Regions from separate parts of the Homo sapiens genome. Here region 1 is linked to region 2. The links come from fine-mapping of genetic effects on gene expression. Tissue or cell type: aorta. Region 2 holds a variant in brackets; the other region holds the start of a gene. All regions are shown on one strand. Distances are between the middles of the regions.

Region 1 (8,109 bases), 100 kb after region 2:
TACTGCTACACGGCAGGAATCTGACTTCCTAGCTAGCAAGAAAGAATTTATAATAAATCATCAGAAAATAAAATTGTCTTTAAAGAATCTTGAATTTGAGTAAGCACCAAAAATCAAGGAATACAGCATTTGGATCCAAGGTGTCAAAACTCCCTGCCTGCTCTAGACTACCTTGGTTTATGCCTACTAACCTGGCATAATTATTAGGAGTGCCCACTTCTACTTTAAAAAATGGCACAGTTTGGACAACTGGTTATACATCACTCTATGCAGATAAAAAAGATTTTTCAACATTGTTTGACAAAGAAACATTAAGGCATTCAGAAACATTAGGATGCAAAGAGGTGGTTTGCACAATCTGCTTTTACACTCACCAATTCTGGAAGAGTTAATAAACATGTTAACTTTCACAGCTATAAAGTAATAAAGATTGATCAACATTGAACATTTACGAAATTTCTTCAGACATAAATGTGGAGCTTGGCCTTGCAACCTATATTTGGGAATTTCCATTTCCACCTCTACCCCCAGTCTAGGGATCCATGAGAAAGGCACAGTGATTCAGCATTTCTAAGGCTTTCATTAAAATGTGCTTCAGTGCAATGAAATCAGGAGAGGGAAAAAAAGGTACATAACACAGATATTAAAAACTTCTTTACATAAAAGCAGAAATGAAATTCTATACTTTCTTACTGAAACATTTCTAAAGCAGCAGAACTGGCAAGTGTCTCTCATCACTGTTATTAAGCAAGTCATCCTAAGATACAGCAGAAAGCAGATGGAACACTTTTTATCAACTACTTCAAGAGATGCTTAAAAACAGAAGTAAAAGGGAGGTCACAGAACACAAAGGGTAATTTCAAGGCACCCACCAAACAACAACACTGTCTATACCTGTACGGGAGCACTTTTAGAATCTTGCTTATCTCATTTTCCTGCCTCCTGGAGGATAGATCATGTCTTTTCATCCTTTTAACCTTTATCTCTTATCTTTGAATACTTAGCATACCGCTTGCATATGAGAAAGGTGCAACAAATGTTTATAGAGTTAAACTAATAAGAAAAATGCTTTCAAATACGATTTCTGTAGAAACATTCTTTTCAAAGTACAGTATAAAAGAAACCCAACTATTCCTCTAGGTAAGCGGTGGGTACAGGTTTAACAAACCTTATTATCACGGAAGTCAGGTATATTACAGTCAAACCACGTCCCACCAAAGAAAACAGCCACATAAGGTTAAACTATAAGGCAAGCATTAGTCATAGCCTCAAACATCTGAGTTATTAAAAAGTGCCACTGAAATTTCAAGTCTCTGCTGAGGAGGGCTTGAGCATTCTTTGAAACAGGCTTTGAGGCAGCTGTTTTTCCTTCCTCCAGCATCCTAAGCAAAGGTGCTGGAGTTTGAGAACTAACCACTTAACTCTAAAAGGTCTCATTCATAAGGAAAGCTATAAAAGCCTCAATGCATTTTATCAAAAGGGCCTTGGATTTCTCTTCTTTAAAGACAACACCCATTTCTCCTATCAATAAGACAAATGAGTTAGACATGACCTATTAGTCACCCCATTAAGTTATATAGGAGCTTATGGAGAAAAGGGCTGGCTGAGAACAGAGACACATTTATCTCACGGTGGGTAGCAGCCACTTCAAAATAATGTGAAAGAAAGTTCACCTCTCCAGTAATATTCAAGGTGAAGAAAGCACTTTCTCAGAGACCTAACTTGTAAAAAATAGTAAAAATTAAACATTCAGGTCACCTGAATTTTATATTAGCTGCTTTACAACATAGGAAAATCACCCAAAAGCCTTAAATTTCTAGCTCCCCATTTGTAAAATGGGGATAAATACTGTTACCACTCACCTATATTTTAGAAAACTAATAAAAAACAATGATGTAAACTGCAGATACTTTCTTAAATTCTAGATGTTTAGACAGTTAATTGCTAACTGTTGTTCTCACCTGAACAAGTACAGATCAAAATGAAACATTTAACATACAGACTCTATTTTCTGCTCCCGATAAACAACAGAAGAACCGATAATCCATTGTTTAAATCTGCTCGGGGTTCAAAATAATATTAATTCAAGTAAAGAATAGTAACACAGGGAAAAAGATCCCTTAAACTCTTTGGATATTAAACATTTGTCTTCTACTGATACCTTGGTAAATATCAGTTCCACTTTCTGAACTAACCTGAAAGTAAAGCAACTGCTCATAATCAATGCAGAGTAGGTACTGAAGAATTATGCCAATCAAAATTGGTCTTCATATTATGCAAATAATTTGTGTCTAGTCACCATAATCTTTTTAAATGTCAAATTGTTTACCTATTGAAAATACAACAGAAAATTTTTTTTTCCTCCTACTGATCAATTAAAGAAACAGACTGTTTAAACACTCAATTTCTAAGTGGAAAGACTGATGGAGACACTGCAGCCAAATAGCTTCTTGAAGCAATCTTGCATGTGCAGATTGAAAGCAGTTTTTATATCATGGGAGACAGTTTTATATCAAGGCAGAATACTGCACCCTTACATAAAGCCTCACAGAAACAAGTTAGAATCATAAACACATTCACTTAACTACTGTTCAGTGCCCAATGTACCTGAAAGATACATGGATATCATTTCAGGTATCAGAAAATTCTAGTTCCAGTTTAGTCAGAGAAGAGAAACAACAGTCTTATCCCAGTAGATCCCAAGTTAATTCCTTCCAGTTTCTCCCCTATCATAATATTAATTGCTTTCTTAATAAAATGCTGCAGTAAAATTTGTGAACTCAGATTCTGGCAGAAAATCAAATCAAAGGAAAACTCTTCATGATAGTTACTTTTGCATAGCCAGCCTCCTGCCTACCTTATTATGTTTTTGCTGGTGTCTTGCCTTTGTGTCAAGAACGTGATAAGGGCTTTCCGAGTCTTGGTTGATGTAATATATGAGTCTTGAAGGCAGTGTGATTTCTTTCTGCATTGCATTGCTGTAACTGATATTACTGCTGCTATTCTGTTGCAATGTATTGTCTTCATCTGCCAGGACTCCCAAATTTTTTTCTGCAGTTTCATTCCAATGCGGAGCTGGTGGAGGTAGGGGGGTGGGGGAGCAGAAAATACAAACATACACAAACACACACATATTTACCCCATAAATACATAAGCACTAAAATGCATTTTTCCTTTAATTTCAAACACAAAGTTTTCTATTTATAAGCAGTTAAGAAGTAGAGCTAGAGTAAAGCAAGTTATTTCAACAATAAAATGGCCTGGAGAAGTTAATAAATAGCCAATAAGGCTTATACAACTGTGCACTATTTATTTTGATTTATGTCTTATATATACATTTCTAGTCAGACTCAAATCTATACTTCTAAGTGTTGGGGGGGGGGTAGAATGAACTTGAGGGAAGAAGAGTCATTAAATGAACATGTTCAGGGGTCCTGCCCCCGATCTCCACCCCTTCTCTGAGTCCACAGAAGCACAACTCTACTCTGCCTAGTGGCATCCCATCCAAGAGCTAAGAACGCTCCTAAGATAACTTGAGTACTGAATTTATGGATACCGAATATTAATCGACTCTTTTAACAAAATGGACAATTCCCTTCTCTTTTAACTTTAAGATGAGCAAACATACTTTGCCATGTAGGGATACAGATGCTGGCAGCTTCCCAATTTCTTTTTATTTTCCTGACAAAGCCAGCTTTCTGCTTTCAGTGACTTCCAATCATCAATATATAGAAGATGGTATTATATTAATTGTTCATTATAATGACAAGCACTTTGAGAAATCAGAACCAAAGGTCGTGCATGAAGTATGTCTTCAGCACCTTAATTCTTTGGTCCCCGAAGTGTGCCTCCCCCACCTTAATTCCAACCGCACTGAATGCGCCGGATACGAAATTTGAGGAAACAGCCCATTACCACTATTATCACTACATCCTCCCCGCATTCACATTAAGGTTCCACCACGCAAGTAGCAACTTGCTCCCTCGCTGTATTTCCCATCCACTGGTTGCCCCTCCGCAAGTTGCACAGAGATCGCTGAGGGACCCAGGATCCACTAAACACCTCCCAGTGGAACCAACAAGAATTGGAATGGGTTTTTCGCGAATGCAACAGAAATGGACTTCCAAAAGTGAACTGGGATGAATGGGGGTTTGGGAACGAGAAGGGTGGAAAGACAGGCAGGGAGGGAAGGAAAGGCCGAGCCGGGGACAAGCCCGGAGCACACGGACCCGCGCGCCCTTCGCTTTCCTCTGCAGGGCCCCGCGGGAAAGCCAACGCAAAGGGCACGGGGCCATACCCACCGCTGGGCGCAGCAGCCCCCCAGGCGCGGGGCCGGGACGAGGCGGCGAGCGGAGGCAGCAGGAGAAGGACGAGAAGCAGGCGGCAGGGCGGCGTGCGGGCCGGGGCGCTGGCAGGCACCGAGCCGGCGGGGCCGCGTTGGGGGCCGCAGGAAGCGCCGGCAAGGCTGCAGCCCGCCAGGGGCGGCTGCCGCGAGCTGCTGCCGGGCGGCTTCATGGCTCATAGCTCCCGGGCGCCGCTCCGTGTGGCCGGCGAGAGCGCCGGGCTAGCTGCGGGGCGGCCGCGGGCGGAGCCGGTCACGCCGGCTCGGCGCGCATGGTGCCGCGGCGGGCAGGGGGCTCCGGGCTCGGGGCACGGGGCGCGGGGCTCGGGGCTGGGCGGCGCCCCCTTTCCCGGCTCGCCTAGCCTCGCAGCCACTCCCGGGGCGGGACGCAGAGGAGTCCAGGGGTCCTCGCCGCTCCGCCAACTTGGAGCCTCCCCAGCGGCTACTCCCTCCCCCGGCGGGCGCGGCCGCTTCAGCGACTGCGGGGGCTGCCGCCGGGCCTGAGGATGCTGAGGCGGCGCGCGGGAGCGAGCGGCGCGGGGACGCGCGGGAGCGAGCGGCGCGGGGACGCGCGGAGCGGGCGTGCGCCCCGCCCCCCGAGAGCGCGCCCGAGCGGGGCTTCGGGTGCTGATGCTGTTGCTGGATGCTGTGCTGCTGCTGTTGCCTGGCCCGGAACGCACTGCGCATGCTTTGTTGGGGGGCGGGGAAGGGGGTAAAGCAGCAGAGTGATGCAGCAGCCCAAGCAGCATCGGAGGTGACGGGTGGTACCTCAAAAGATGGGGGCGGTGGAGGGGGAGCCGGCAGTCACGGATAAGCCAGAAGAAAGAGAGTACGGGGGTTTCCAGGCCAGAGACAGGGATGATCGGGAGAAAACAACCAGCCGAAGTCCACCTGCCTTTTCCACCACCCCAGACTTCACATACCCTCTCCTATTCCAACCTCTTCCTGCTCTGGATAAACTAAGGCCACGCATCTCCTTCTTAATCCCTTATATATTTGCTTCCTGCATGTAAATATAAAGGATTGCAGCCGGGGAGGTAAAAATAGCGCGGCTCCTCATTCAGATTGCCAGCAGCGGGTGGGACTGCGGCTGAGAAGAGCGTTTGCGCCGCAGGCTGGCGCGGAGTGGCAGGAATCCCCCGCGCAGGGGCGCTCTGCCCCGGCCTGTGTCCTCCCTGCCGGTGCCTGGGGTCTTTGAGGAAAGCACAAGAAGCCGGACGGTGTTTGCTCAAAAGTTCAGAAAGTATGACTGGGCATATTCGGGAAGGACTTCGACATTCTGGCGGGGAAGCAATACAGAGATTAGAAACCAAGTGTGTGGCAGCTATCTTGGGAAATCCGTTGTTTGTCAACCACGGGGATGGGCACACATTTAGGAGGACACATTTCTATTTTTGAGATCCAGTCCTGACTTCTGCAGAGGAAAGGGGAAGTTTTCTCTCGTTGCTGTAAAAAATGTAAATCCCTGACTTCGGTGGGTTCGCAGCCACTAAATCTGATGGCTTCAGATAAGAGTCTGTGGCATATTTCTGCCCCCAAACTCTCATAATGCAAGCATTCATTTATTCACCCTCCCAATGACAATCTGAGTGATAACAATGTTGTCTTACTCCGACATCCACGGGGTGAGGGCTGGGGTGGAGAATTCCATGATTAAAAGAAAGAATGTGGGTATAAAAGTGCCATGGCCATGACAGAACTCAGTGTTAGCCATCATCTTCTCCACTCACACTTAACAAAGAGAAAAGAAGAAGACATATACGCGCGCGCACACACACATTACAAAACTGTTAGGTAAATACTGAGATAACTTCCTTTCTATGTTGAGCTAGGATATTATTATCACATATTTATTCCTGTAAATTTGTAATTGTTGCTACCTCCCCCATGTGAGGGCAACAACAGTTTTCCCTTCTGCACACCATTGTGTCCCTAGGACCTCACACAGTGTCTGAGGCACAGAGAAATCGCTTGGAAAATATGTACTAAATGAATAAAGAAATGGGTGATACACACAAGCAGAAGTCACACTTGGGGCAGGCTAGTGAACACTCTAGCCCCACCGGAGTGCCCACTGCAGGTCAATGTTCTTAGGGTTGTCTCCCTCAAGTCAAGTATTCTCTGGCTAGGTTTTCCAAATTTATATTTGACACAATATGCATCCTGAAAAAGGGCCTGAGAGAAAGCAAGCCAGAAAGGAGATGTACAAGCAATGAGAAGGGAGAGGGAAATGAAAGGTGCAAAGCACCCAGATGCAAGTTACTTGAAAGGCATCTCTTGCAATTCAGTGACAACCTCTTAAAGTCTGTTCTGATAAATAAACCTATCAGCCAACCTGGACTGACCAAACCCACCCACCAGTTACAACACATCATTTCATGCACTTGGGGTATGGAATGAGGATTCAATATAGTTTCTTTTTTTCTTTTTTTTTTTTTTTTTTTGAGATGGTGTCTTGCTGTGTCACCCAGGCTGGAATGCAGTAGTGCGATCTCAGCTCACTGCAACCTCTGCCTCCCAGGTTCAAGCGATTCTCCTGCCTCAGCCTCCCAAGTAGCTGGGATTAGCTGGGATTACAGGCACGTGCCACTACACCCGGCTAATTTTTGTAGTTTTAGTAGAGACGGGGTTTCACCATGTTGGCCAGGCTGTTCTCAAACTCCTGACCTCAGGTGATCCACCCACCTCAGCTTCCCAAAGTGCTGGGATTACAGGCGTGATCCACCGCACCTGGCCTCAATATAGTTTCTAATAAGGGGTTGGGGTATTTACAAAGAGGGATGTTGTCTTATGTACTATAGTCAAAAGACTGCATTTATTTACAGAACTTTAATGGTTACAGACATTGCTAGAGTCAAAATAAGATATCAATAAATGAAATAATGAGTCAGAGAAAGAGTACATTACTTAGAAAAAATTTACTGGAAGTTTAGTCTTTAAGCCATATATTTAAGGGAAGGTTAAAAACAGAATCAAATATTAACTGATTAAATAATTTAATTGGTCAACTTGGTAGAGTTAGTAATATTCTTATTAGGTAGTTCAGAATTTTTATTTTTATAGAGTTTACTTCTAAATATTCCCCTCTGTGCTTTCATAAGATTTAGTGACTTGCTTAATCACTTGCCACCTACTGCTTTGCTCTGTATTCGTGTATGTGCATATCATCATTCTTCCATCAAAAAATACTGAGAGCAAGGCTGTATCTTGGTCATCTCTGACTCCACAGCCTAGTATAGTACCTGGAATCAAATCAGCATTCATAGAGGGGCACTCACAGGTAGGAAACAGAGGGATTCAGCAAGATGGACTGGAATAAAGAAATATACCAGAAGCTTGAGTGCTATAATGGCCCTGGTTACCAATGTGTGTTGGATCCTAAGGCCATCAGAGGATCACTGGAGTGATCTAGTCACAGTGGCAGACATGGAGAAATGCTGCAGTCGTAGGTGAAGGCAGGTGGCCAGAAGGTCCATGGGAAGGAAATTACACCAGGCAATATGGACCCTAGGTAAGCACCATGAGGGGTGCATGTGAGCAATACCCAGGAAGGGTCGTCATACTGTTCACAAAAATGGTCCATTGGTCTGGTGAGGGAGGAGATCAGAAGGTCTCTATTTGCCAAAATCTGTTTCCAGTGGTAGAACTGGACCCACTTTGCAACCAGTGAGAAGACTGGGTCTGGACAGGAGCAAGCAAAGGACAGAAATAGAAATATTAGATGTAGCAGGCCTTGGCCTCAAGAGGGCTGAGATGCTAGGGGAGAA
Region 2 (8,109 bases):
TCTCAAAATAATAACAATAATAATAATAATACTAACAACAATAATAAAATGAATTATTAAAATTTACCCTTAAAAGATTTGATAGCCTAAATAAGGAACTCTATCACAGAACATGTGACATGGTGTGTAGAAATTTTCTACATATAAAATAATATTTTAAGAAGTATGCTATTTTATTATTCATAAGAATAAGGTTATTTAAATGTTTACCATTGAGAAGGGTTAAAAAATAAATTCAAAAAATATGCTGTTTTAACAATTACCAAAAAACTATAACTGTTTAATTGTAATTAACACTTAGTAGTAACTGTTTCCTATTTTGCACAGTTACTGAGATTTGCTCTTTTGATTGATAGCTTCATGTACTTTCCTGATATATTATGGTAGAACAAGAGATTTGGAATTGCAAGTAAAGGTTTGAGAACAGATTCTATAGATTAACAGCTATTTGAGAATGCACTTTGTGCATTCAAAGACATTGAATATATCTTAATTATTATTTCTACTACTCTAAAAGTATTTATATAATGGATGTTGAAAAAAGCTTAGGCTTCAAAAGCCATAATTTCACAACATGCCACAATGCTCAAGATTGAGAATCAGCTGGGAAAAAAAATCTCAATGTTCCAATCAACAAAAATAATTCAGATAAAAAAACTATCTTGGGGTTTCAAGCAAATTAAAGTCCTTCAGAAACTCATATTTTAGCCTTTACTGTCTAAAATGACTGCCTACACATCTGGCTTTCCTTTCCACCAAAAAGGACCTCTCTTAAATTATATGTGTTCTGATAAATTTTGCTTCTTACTAACATCTCAAGCAATATATTTAAAGGCAACTGGAACAGAAAATAAATGTGTATACAAAAGTAAGAGGTATTCTATTGATATTCAACACAATTAAACTGATAGTTAATGGAAAACATCCATTAAAGTAGAAACTTAAAAGTTTAAATATAAATTAAGTCACTATTTTTTTAAATTTCTAGTTTCAAGGCATTCTCTGAGTAGGGCCAGCTAATTAGAATTTCACATCATTTTAGCATGAAGCACAACCTTATCATACCATGTACTAATCTAATTTTGGTTTCCTTAAAGTAAAACAAAGACTTAAAGATAATTCCAAAGCAATTTCAATTTTTGTTCCAATCTTTCATAAGTTTGTCACCAATACCTGATTTCTATGCATTTTTTAAAAGATTCTCATCTATATAAAGTCTTTTCAGAAGTGCAACTTTGTTTTGATAAAACAAGTACTTTTTGCCTTAGAGTTTACAACTTTTAAAGTTCAATCACATAACTACAACAGAGATTACAATTGGCCTAAACAGTCTGGGGAGTGTGGCAGTGGTTGCTGGAGCCAGCTCCCATCAGATCCCGAGAGCCAACTAGATACATCCTCTCCTAACTCCTCATCAGTGATCTCACTTTGATAGCTTGAAATCAGCTATGGTGGCAATATTTACACCACAGATATCAGCAAACATTATAAATCAAGAGAGCTAGGTATTAAAATTTACCAGCACACCACTAGTATTGGGTGTACTAGTATATAGCCTACTGACCAAGACTCTTCTGGGCTTCAGGCAAGTAATTTTATAAAGGAAACGGTTAAGTATAGTTAACGGAGTTTCTATTGTATCTTCAAGAGGGGAAAATGAGGAACAATGAATGTTTTTCATATATCTTTTAAGTGTTACTGAAATGACATATTCAATCACATTTTACTGCCACAGAAGTTAACACGAGATTATTCATCTTTCCAATATTTAAAGACGATAAGTCGCCGGGCGCGGTGGCTCACGCCTGTAATCCCAGCACTTTGGGAGGCCGAGGCAGGCGGATCACGAGGTCAGGAGATCGAGACCATCCTCGCTAAGGCGGTGAAACCCCGTCTCTACTAAAAATACAAAAAATTAGCCGGGCGTAGTGGCGGGCGCCTGTAGTCCCAGCTACTCGGGAGGCTGAGGCAGGAGAATAGCGTGAACCCGGGAGGCGGAGCTTGCAGTGAGCCGAGATCGCGCCACTGTACTCCAGGCTGGGCGACAGAGCGAGACTCCGTCTCACAAAAAAAAAAAAAAAAAAGACGATAAGTCATCAAAGATATTCACTTTAGATAAACCTTTATTTTATATGTTTGCCTCCTACAATTGTATCTACCATAAGCATAATTAACTAGTAAGAAAAAATAACATATTAGCAGGACAAAAGCACGGAATAAAATTAGAAAGCAGTGACCAAATACATAGATGAAGAAAAGTAGAGAATAAGAATTTTAAATGAAGACAAAAGATGCCAGATAGCTAAATCTATTAATTATAATTATTAAATGTAAGGAAAGTTTAGAGTTGTGAAAATTCTATAAAACTCAGAGTCTCCAAACACCGACAAATAAATCAAGTCACTTAATATGTCTGAATATCTTGGGGTTAATAAGTAAAAAATAATGATTAACTATAAAGTAAAATGTATTCTTTCTTAAGTAAGCTATCTGTTCTAAAACCCACTGACTCTATATTCTTACCGTTTTGTGATCATTAACAATCATAAGTTCCAAATATTTCATTTCTTCAAATATACCACGTGATGGCTACGGAAAATAAAAATATATGGTCAGAATAGTGATTGACATAAAATCTCTCTAGTGCTCACTGTTAAGTTGTAGATAAGACTTTGAATTTCAGAACAACTCTCTGCTGCCTACTTTATAAACACCTTAGAAGAAAGTTGGTCAGGCAAATTTTAAAAAGTGATCATAAAATATGGGTACATATTCAAGTATTTAGAAAATAACTGTATTTTATTATCATTAAGGTACTTACTTATCAACATAGAAAACAGTCCATGTTGTTGTATATGGTTTTTATATGTAAAAATATTCTAGAGAAAAATTATAGCATAATTATGTTAAAATAAATAAATCTCAATTTCACATTAAAATGTGATAAAATATTCATATTTACTTAAAACGTCAATGAAAATCTATGTAAAACTCATTTAATAAGAATAGCATAAGTTATAATTACTTCCAGATATATCTGATACAGATATCAATGTAGTTAAATAGAAACATTAACTCACTCGAGTGAAATTCTAAAAATAATATGCTAATTCTTAACTGCTCAATTTCTCAAAGGAAAAAATATTGGCAATTATTACAGTCTAAAGTCTTCTAAATTAACTAGATAATTCTTTAAGAGTAAGTATTTTAGCCTTCATTTGGACTTTTATTTCTTTTTCATAGTTGGAAAATTATAATAGTGGCTCTTTTTTCTTTATGTACATAGTCATTGATCACTTTATATTTGATGAGGTGGACTGTAGGGAAAGAACAGCAGCCATTGTAAAACATATTATTACCAACCACATCTTTATGAATGAGCTAAAAGAGATCTAATAATAATTTATATAATATATAATAAATGTATCCATAATTATCATAAGAGTTTCATAAAAGGGAGGAAAATTTAAACTGGAACTAAGTTTTTGATGGCTGGTGGTCTATTTTTTTCACAAAAAAAATACACTCAGCAAAACATTATCTAAAATGTGCAATTTCTACTATAGTTACTCATTAAGTTATCTAGTAAATTACCATGTAATGTATAAGCTGTGGAATTAATTCTCAGTTACATAGCATTCACCATGTAATTACTAAACAGTCCCCATCATTACAGCTTTCTAGCCTATTATGAAAAGACCAGAAACATAATTTCAATTACAAAGCCCCTATACGTTTATCAATACATGTGAAGTATATAACAGTAGTTGATTATACAATTA[C/T]ATGATTTTTATTTAGAAACTGTTATATTGCTAATAGTCAAATAAATTCATTGTGTTCTGAAAAACACATACAGCTTTAAAGTTTGGTGTAACAGAGTTTTTAATCTGAAAGTAATATAAATATGTATGATTAGCCAACATTTCAAAACCTAACTCCTCTCTCTAGATTTTTTATTAACAGAAATGTTTTATATGACACTATATAAGCCATATAGAAAGAAAAGTCTGCTGTACTTTAAATAGAAAATAAAACGCACTGCAATTATCATCAGAAAACACGTAGAAAACAGAGCTAAAACAACACGTTCTTTAGATGACGTCAGGGTTCAGAGACTACCGTAATCAGTTTGAATCACTAACAGAAAGAGATCAATAAAAAGCAGTGTGTTAAGGCTCAAATCATAGGGTTTTTTGTTTATTGTTTTCATTTTTAAACAACAGTCCCCAAAATCTGAACTGTTTTAGGTACACTTAGATAATGTGGGGTGATAGGCACATGACTTCATTGAGTAAAATAGGCCCACCCAAGGCTCAATGCCACACTCACATTCACTGCTCTCTTCCTTCTTTTCAACCACTGTAATTCAGAGAGAAAGGGCCACTGGTCACCTCTTTCCATAGCTGCAGAAAGGAAAAATTAGTATCAAAATTTTATGCTTATTTCAATGGGAGTATGTTTTAAAATATTACATGAAGAAACAGTGGCACTGATAATATATGTCAAACTAAGGTGAAAAAAAGCACACTGATCATTATATATTTCACACTCTCATGACCACAAAGATAGTTCAAATGTAATTTTGTCCCAAACATCAAGAAAACATAATGTTCAAGATTCATTAGAAGATGCATATTTGATATAAAACCACTTGACAATATCTGAAAATTTGACAGAGTTCTACTATGTCTAATTCATTTTAGCATTCAAAATAATGTATGGCATTAGCTTTTGCATAAATTATTAAAGACTTTTAGCAGTAATATACAGAAATAAAATCACATGCCCCAACAATCAAAAAGAAGCTTCTTCCAACATTAGCACACTTAAGATGTGTCTGGAGCAGAGCATGAGAGGGAGGCAATCCAAGCTGGCTCAAGAGCAGCAAACTGCCAGGAAGATTTCAGGATGAACCTCACTGTAAATCACTGTACTAAATTTGACCACACTTTCTGGTTCCCAAGGCAGCTTTACTCAAAGTCTTCATGTTTTAGTCTGCACTGGAAATGACTCTCCATGCCTCTTTACACAAGAGCCACCACTCATTCCAGTGCTGATCCACGATGTTCACCCCTGATATCAGACCAATTCCACTTCCAACAAGCCTGCATATCTACTGAGCTCCACCAGATAAAAGCTCATACTACATAAAATATAATCGCTATTTTTAGTTAAAACTTACTGAGATTCTTCATTTGCTTAGAATACTGTCCTGCCAAGGTTTTCTGGATTATATGTGGTCGACCTGTGCTTTTCTGAAACAAAACAATTGTAGGCAATTTAGAAAGCAAGATGTGAACAAGCCTCTATGAAACAGTGTTGGAACTTTCTCTAATGTCCTTCCTAAAATGGGAATATTTATATGTCAGTTTTTTAGCTATCAAAAGTGAAAAGTATGTCTTATTGAAATCTTAATTTTAAATAAAAGAGTATCATCTAATTGCCCCAGTTTAGATAAAAACATAGTGTTACTGGTTACTCTTAAATCTTAGCTTTCTTTAAAGCTATAAATGGGAAATTCACAAGAAACACAAAAAGTCAATAAACATGTAAAAACATGCCGAATGCTTTCATATTCCTTCAACATGCATTTTTTTTAATGAAGCACCAACTTTTGCCATAAAACTGATGAAGTTTTAAAAATTACGATATCCATAGTTAATTACCATTGTAAGGCCAAAAGCACTCTCACACCTTGCTGGCAAGAGGAAATTGGTAGCATAGTTTGAGAGAGAAATTTAGTAAGGTATATCAACAAACGTGAAAACATTTACATTTTTTGCCCTAGAAATTATGCTTTTAGGAATGTCTATTACCATTATTCTTATTCCTATTAGCTTCCATTACTGAGTGCATAGTATGTATCAGGTACTGTTAATGTACACATTATTTAATTTAGTCCTGACAAAGACGCCATATAGTGCATGGTTTATCCCTATTTTACAAATAAAGATATTGAGGCTCAGGGAGATACATCATTGTCTTAAAATTATCTTATAAAATAATGATCCAATCTATTTTTAAAAATATATGGGACTATATCATTGAAAACTGGAAGAACATATTCTGAAACATGACAAGAAGTTATCTTTGGGGGACAGGATAATGGAAAATTACTATTTAAGTATTTGTTTTGCTTTTCCAAATTTCCTATATTAGTTTTATAATCAGAAAAAGTTATAAAAAAGAAACTTCTTAATAGGTTACATAAAACTTATAACAGTTTTGCTATTCATTTATTACTTGAGAGATAACATGAATTCTCATTAGAAATATCCCATGCGTATTACTTGACTTATCGCAAAGCATACTAAAATCAATAATATCTAACAACAAACATCAAAATATCTAAAATTAATTACAGTAAGCTCTAAATTCTGGTAAAAGGTGAAAAGATAGTAATGAAATTAACAATGGGATCAGCAACACAATTTAAAAAATCGACTAAAGTTTAAAGCACTATTCCTTTCCTCTACCCATAGTGTGGATGAGGACAAATCATTACATAACCAAAAGGTAGGCAACAGGAAGGAAGGCAAAGAGAAGGCAATTTGCATGTAACAATCAGGCCCTGAATAATATGATCACAAGTAAACAATGCAAAACCAATGCTTTAAACATTATAACAATAGTTTATATTTATAAATCCTTATGACAGTTTAATAGACATTGTCACCTACATTTATTAATTCATCAAATCTACAAAATTGCCCTACTATGAATGCATTAAAAATTATCTCATTTTATACATTTAAAAAACTCTAAGGCTTAAATAGTTATTATTTGGGAATCTGTGTTTTGTTCTTTGTGGATTTTGTTAGGGTACCAGGGCCATTAATCAAAGCCAGAAATCAAAGTCAGAGTTTTTGCTGAATGAGTCGAATAATTTTGCTGTACACAGATTATCTTTCCTTACTGGAGTGAGATAAATAACATTTTACTTAATCAAAATGTCTTTATCTAAGTGGGCTGTCTTCATTACCTGATAATTTTTATAGTTACTAGTTGAAAATGACAGAGGTTTATTCAAACACCAACCCTTTAAAACTTTTCTGCATCAACTTTGAAATTTACCCCATATTCATACATACATCGCCATAACCAAGACAATAAAAGTTTGTCTGTTCAGCTTTTATTATCAGTAGCCTATCTAACTGTTAGCTGTTTCAAAATTAATTAATTAATTAATTTATTTATTGAGATGGAGTCTCGCTCTGTCGCCCAGGCTGGAGTGCAAAGGTGCAATCTTGGCTCGCTGTAACCTCTGCCTCCCAGGTTCAAGCGATTCTTCTGCCTCAGCCTCCCCACTAGCTGGGATTACAGGCTCCCGTCACCACGCCCAGCTAATTTTTGTATTTTTAGTGGAGACAGGGTTTCACCATATTGGCTGGGCTGGTCTCAAACTCCTGACCTCGTGATCTGCGCACCTCAGCCTCCCAAAGTGCTAGGATTATAGGCGTGAGCTACCACGCCCAGCCCAATTTTATCTAAATTTGAAATCCCTAAAGATAAAAAATGTTTTCTGTTCCCCATCAAATAACTGCAATAATCTAACTCTATCACTCACAAAATATTATTTTCCCGCTACAGTTCTTTTCACTGATCTGACTTCTGTACTGTTACCTCTCAGTGCCTTAATCTCCTCCCATTCTTCCCCTTGTTCACTCCTCTCCAACCCTGTCAGGTTCCTCAAAGCTCCTCGAACACCCTAGGCACACTCCTGCCTCAAGGCCTTTGTATTTGCTCATCTTCTAGAATGTTCTTCCAGCTCTCTAATTTCCTTAAGTGCTTCATTCACCACTTGTCTTCTCTTGGTGGACTTCCCGGAACTGTGTATGTATAAAAAATTTAACTCCATCCTGGCTAACACGGTGAAATCCCGTCTCTACTAAAAATACAAAAAATTAGCTGGGTGCGGTGGCGGGCACCTGTAGTCCCAGCTACTTGGGAGGCTGAGGCAGGAGAATGGCGTGAACCCAGCAGGCGGAGCTTGCAGTGAGCCAAGATAGTGCCACTGCACTCCAGCCTAGGCGAAAGAGCGAGACTATCTCAAAAAAAAAAAAAAAAAAATTTAACTCTCCACTCTCCTGGCTTCACTTTTTCTCCTTA

What was found. PIP is the estimated chance that this variant, and not a neighbour inherited with it, causes the effect.
Region 1: ADAM23 starts here. The variant in region 2 is fine-mapped to the expression of ADAM23 in aorta (GTEx, PIP above 0.99).

Annotation. Positions count from the first base shown.
Region 1 is chr2:206,440,273-206,448,381 of GRCh38, reverse strand. ADAM23 (ADAM metallopeptidase domain 23) reads right to left here and starts at 4,850. Exons shown (of 26, transcript NM_003812.4): 1 at 4,302-4,850; 2 at 2,858-3,075. The coding sequence starts at 4,515. RefSeq lists a silencer at 4,276-4,405.
Region 2 is chr2:206,544,575-206,552,683 of GRCh38, reverse strand. ADAM23 (ADAM metallopeptidase domain 23) reads right to left here. Exons shown (of 26, transcript NM_003812.4): 7 at 5,183-5,255; 8 at 4,330-4,403; 9 at 2,524-2,589. Among named protein-coding and RNA genes, the nearest start is that of FAM237A, 94 kb to the left of the region's middle. The variant C/T (reference allele first, on the strand shown) is at 3,783.